Linked DNA regions of Homo sapiens: region 2 is linked to region 1. The links come from fine-mapping of genetic effects on gene expression. Tissue or cell type: whole blood. Region 1 holds a variant in brackets; the other region holds the start of a gene. All regions are shown on one strand. Distances are from middle to middle.

Region 1 (2,756 bases):
CCAACATGATGAAACGCTGTCTGTACTAAAAATACAAAAAATTAGCTGGGTATGGTGGCAGGCACCTGTAATCCTAGCTACTTGGGAGGCTGAGGTAGAAGAATCGCTTGAACCCGGGATGCAGAGGTTGCAGCAAGCCAAGATCACACCACTGCACACCAACCCGGGTGACAGTGCGAGACTCCGTCTCAAAAATAAATAAATAAATAAATAAATAAATAAATGAAAATCGAAAAAGAAAAAGAGAAAAGAAAAAATAGAAGATCTAGGTACATATCCATACAGTAAATGTACTGCTCCTTTTAACTGGCTGCATAGTATTTCTTAGCAAGGATGTGCCACCACTGATTAAGCCAGGGCTCTACAGAGGGACATGTGAATGGGATCCAGTCCTTTTGCCATGATATGCATTATAATGCAATGAATGTGTGCACATGCTTCCTCCTGTATGTGTGCGAGTGCACCTTGGATAAATCTCTACAAGCACCTGGCTCACTGGACCTGTAGGTTTGATTTTGAGAGATATTAGAGAGGTTGTTTTCTGCAACGTGCCAGGAAGGCGCTGGTTACAACCTCGGCCACTCAGCGTGTTCACGGACTATCTAGGCCGCCCCCCTGAGGAGCTGTCTGGAACTGCATCTACACGCAACAAGGATTTGGGGTAGCGGGGTAACTCCAACGTAGCCCTACACGTGATTCCTTCCAGACCCTGAGCCAGGACGTTCAATCTTTCAAATTCACCCTGGAGGCTCCAGGGGCCTAGAGTTTCCATTTATTATTCACTTACATGGCGAAATCCCATCTATCTTTTTTTTTTTTCTTTTCCTTTCGAGACGTAGTCTCGCGCTGTTGCTCAGGCTGGAGTGCAATGGCAGGATTTCGGCTCACTGCAACCTTCACTTACCCACCACCACACCCGGTTAATTTTTTGTATTTAGTAGAGACGGCGGTCTCACCATATTGGTCAGGCCGGTCTCGAACTCCTAACCTCAGGTGATCCACCCGTCTTGGCCTACCAAAGTGCTAGGATTACAAGCATGAGCCACTGCGCCTGGCCTCTCTATCTTTTAAAAATAATTATAATTTGGATGAAATTTAGATGAATTCTTTTTTTTTCTTTTTTTTTTTTTTTTTTTGAGACAGAGTCTCACTCTGTTGCACAGGCTGGAGTGTGGTGGCGCGATCTCTG[C/G]TCACTGCAACCTCTGCCTCCCGGGTTCAAGCAATTCTCTGCCTCAGCCTCCCGAGTAGCTGGGGATTACAGGCGCCCGCCACCACGCCCGGTTAATTTTTGTATTTTTAGTAGAGATGGGGGTTTCACCATGTTGGCCAGGCTGGTCTTGAACTCCTGATCTCGTGATCCACCCACCTCGGCTCCCAAAGTGCTGGGATTACAGATGTGAGCCACCGCACCCAGCCTAGATGAATTCTTTAAAATAAACTTACATACATTTATTTAAAAGTTAACGTTACATGATAAACGGTGTGCATGACAAATCAGTATCCCCAGTCATGAAAAATAGCAATGGTTTCTGTCTCTTGGGAGCCAGCATTCGCATTTAATATTTTTATTTTTTATTTACTTATTTATTTTTTTGAGTCAGAGCCTCGCTCTGTGGCGCAGGCTGGAGTGCAGTGCGGTGATCTTGGCTCACTGCACGCTCCGCCTCCCGGGTTCACGCCATTCTCCTGCCTCAGCCTCCTGTGTACCTGGGACTACAGGCGCCCGCCACCACGCCCGGCTAATTTTTTGTATTTTTAGTAGAGACGGGGTTTTATCATGTTAGCCAGGATGGTCTCGATCTCCCGACCTCGTGATCCGCCTGCCTCGGCCTCCCAAAATGCTGGGATTACAGGTGTGAGTCACCGCGCCCGGCCCCGCATTTAGTCTTAATGATAATCTGGTAGGTAGGTGCTATTATATTATTACTTTTTATAGAGAGGAAACTGAACCATAGAGAACTAAGTAAGCGCCCACGGGCACTGAGCTGGTAAGAGGCAGATCCAGGGTTTGAACCCCCCAAAGACGGGTGCCACACGCCTCTTGATAGGAAGTAAATCAAAAATAAAGACAAGGAAGGCCGGGCGCGGTGGCTCACGCCTGTAATCCCAACACTTTGGGAGGCCGAGGCGGGCGGATCATGAGGTCAGGGGTTTGAGACCATCCTGGCCAACATGGTGAAACCCCATCTGTACTAAAAATACAAAAAATTAGCTGGGTATGATGGCGGGCGCCTGTAATCCCAGCTACTCGGGAGGCTGAGGCAGAATTTTTTGAACCCGGGAGGCGGAGGTTGCAGTGAGCCAAGATCGAGCTACTGCACTCCAGCCCAGGTGACAGTGAGAGACTCTGTCTCAATTAAAAAAAAAAAAAAAAAAAAAAGACAAGGAAAACCTGAGGCCTGGGCACAGCGCCTCACACCTATAATCCCAGAACTTTGGGAGGCCAATGGAGTCAGGATCTCTTAAACCCAGGTGTTCAAGACCAGCCTGGGCAACATTGCGAGACCCCATCTCTACAGAAAAACAAACAAACAAACAAAAACTAAAAATTAGCCGGGTGTGGTGGCGCCTGTCTGTGGTCCCAGCTACTCAGGAGGCTGAGGTGGGAGGATCGCTTGAGGCCAGGAGCTCAAGGCTGCAGTGAGCCGCGATTGCGCCACTGCACTCCAGCCTGGGCGTGCAGATCAGAGCGAGACCTTGTCTCTAAAGGAAAAAAAAAAAGAAAGAAAGAAAGAAAAGAAAAGAAAAGAAAACCT
Region 2 (2,500 bases), 200 kb after region 1:
CCCACCCCTAGGGGCCTGTGAAGCCTCCCTGGCCTGCTCCACCTGCCATGTGTATGTGAGTGAAGACCACCTGGATCTCCTGCCTCCTCCCGAGGAGAGGTGAGTGGGTCAGCCCTGTCTAGCTGGCAGCTTCACCCTGGAGCATTCAGCAGCCCCCACCATCCTCCCCACTTCCAGTTCCTGGAATGGGAGCTGCCTCCCCCACCACTACCCCCTGCGCTCAGTCAGCTTCCTCCCTCCCCCACCTCTGGCCCCCCACCCACCCAGCTAGCTTGCCCTCGGCTAACACTGCCCGTGTCACCACCCTAGGGAAGACGACATGCTAGACATGGCCCCCCTCCTCCAGGAGAACTCGCGGCTGGGCTGCCAGATTGTGCTGACACCGGAGCTGGAAGGAGCGGAATTCACCCTGCCCAAGATCACCAGGAACTTCTACGTGGATGGCCATGTCCCCAAGCCCCACTGACATGAACACCTGGACCATTCCACATTGCCATGGCCCCAGGGCCCAGATTGAGGGAATAGCCAGGTGCCAGCCCTGCCCAGAGTGCGGACAGGCCCGGGAGAGACGTGGAAGCCCCTGTGAAGGACAACACCCCTGCTTGGGAGAGAGTCCCATGTCCAGGCTCTGGTGGGGACAGGGCCCCTAGTGGGGTGGCCTTCCCCAGGCCCCTGAGAATCAGGGTTTGAGTAGGAGTGGACTCATATTGGAGCTGCAATAAATCGATAACACAGGCCCCAGCATGTTGAGTGTCCTTGGGGGACAGATCTGGGGTCTACAGGTGGCTCACACCTGTAATCCTAGCACTTTGGGAAGCCAAGATGGGAGGATCACTTGAGGCCAGGAGCTTAAGACCATCCTGGGCAACATGGCGAGACCTCGTCTCTATAAAAACAGTAAAAATTAGCGTGGAGTGGTGGTAAGTGCCTGTAGTCCCAGCTACTCGGGAGACTGAGGTGGGAGGATCACTTGAGCCCAGGGGATTTAGGCTGCAGTGGAGCGGTGATCAGGCCATTCCACTCCAGCCTGGGTGACAGAGTGAGGCCCTGTCTCAAAAAAAAAAAAAACAAAAACAAAAACAAACCACACCTGCATCTGCTGTGCTGGGCCCCCGGTTCTCTTTTCCCTCTGGGATCTAAGATGCCGCTGGGGATCCAAGGCAGAGGCCTGGGAGCCCCCATTTCCGAGGGGGAGGGCTAGCGTGGAAGGCCCCGCCCCGGCAGCTGCGGAGGGATTTGGTGGGGTCCAGGCCGCCCTTGCCACGCAGGGGTGCGCGGATGACCTGAAAAAAGCCAGAAAGAGGAAAGGTGCCGCCGAGGCTGGTCGCTCTCAGCTGGGGCTCATCGCATCCTCTACCAAGAGCGCTCCCACCACACAGGTCCCGCCCCTCCCAGGTGGGTTTCATCGGGTGGGCCCAGCGGGACAGGGCCGGGTGAAATTAGGGAGGGGGCTGGGCTGGGGCGCAATGGAGGCCGAGCCAATCCCGGACTCCTCAATGCCAGCAAAGCTTCTGGCGCCGCCCTGTCTGAACCTGGAGCGGCTGGGAGGATCCCCCTCCCAGGAGAAGCCGAGGACCCCAGGATGCTGCAGAATCAGTGAGAGGTGCGTAAGGCCAAACCCCATTCCCCGGACCCCGCTAGCACTTCACCACCTGGCTCAGTGATCAAGGGGTCATGACCTCTCTTTGCTGGGGTTATCGAGAAGTGGCAATTTTATAATAGTTACTGAAACTTACAAAGAGGTTCTGGTGCCCAGAGACACTTGGGGTCATCTAGGGATCAGAGGCCATGCAATTCCATGTCTCTGGGGCTGATGTAGGCACTCCCCAGGGATCATCCAGGGGTTATGGAGGGCAACTCAATAATAATGAAAATGATAAAAATCGTAATCATATTATGGCAAGCCAGCGGCGTGGTGGCGCGTGCCTGTAAGTCCCAGCTACTCGGGAGGCTGAGGCGGAAGGATCGGTCGAGCCCAGGAGTTCTAGGCTGCACTGAGTCCTGATCACGCCCCTGCACTCCAGGCGGGGGTACAGAGTGAGGCTCGGTCTCTAAAAGAAACACAAAGAAAAAAAGTAACCTTTTTCTCGATCCTGCAGCCAGAGGCTTGATATCCTGCCTCGGTCACCTAGGGCGGTCCCTGCCTGGGTGATCTACGGGTGCCGTAAGGGGTTGATTGATGTGGAGGGCTGGGCGTGCCTGGGAGGCCCACAGTGGGCGAGGTGAGTTGCAATTACTGCAACTCTTAAACCTTCCACCCAGAGTTAGAAATGACTGAACCTCAGGTGGGGTGTGTAGCCTGTCCAAGGGTACACAAAGAGCCGGCCCAAGTTGGAACCCCCTGGCCGGCTAAACCCAGGAGTCACCCAAGAAAACGTGACCCCACTGCCCTTCTCCCCAGGTCCCTCTGGCCTGCATGCCAGGAGTCGGTCACCGCCCTGTGCTTCCTCCAAGAGACAGTGGAGAGGCTGGGTCAGTCCCCTGCCCAGGACACCCCGGT

Evidence for each region. PIP is the estimated chance that this variant, and not a neighbour inherited with it, causes the effect.
Region 2: it holds the start of ZGLP1, and the variant in region 1 is fine-mapped to the expression of ZGLP1 in whole blood (TOPMed, PIP above 0.99).

Annotation. Positions count from the first base shown.
Region 1 is chr19:10,503,635-10,506,390 of GRCh38, reverse strand. No RefSeq gene overlaps it. Among named protein-coding and RNA genes, the nearest start is that of KEAP1, 1.7 kb to the right of the region's middle. The variant C/G (reference allele first, on the strand shown) is at 1,190.
Region 2 is chr19:10,308,452-10,310,951 of GRCh38, reverse strand. It overlaps ZGLP1 (zinc finger GATA like protein 1), which reads left to right and starts at 1,137. Exons shown (of 5, transcript NM_001409033.1): 1 at 1,137-1,603; 2 at 2,402-2,500. The coding sequence starts at 1,467. FDX2 (ferredoxin 2) reads left to right here. Exons shown (of 5, transcript NM_001397406.1): 4 at 12-99; 5 at 310-907. The coding sequence ends at 466. FDX2-ZGLP1 (FDX2-ZGLP1 readthrough) reads left to right here. Exons shown (of 9, transcript NR_176052.1): 4 at 12-99; 5 at 310-1,603; 6 at 2,402-2,500.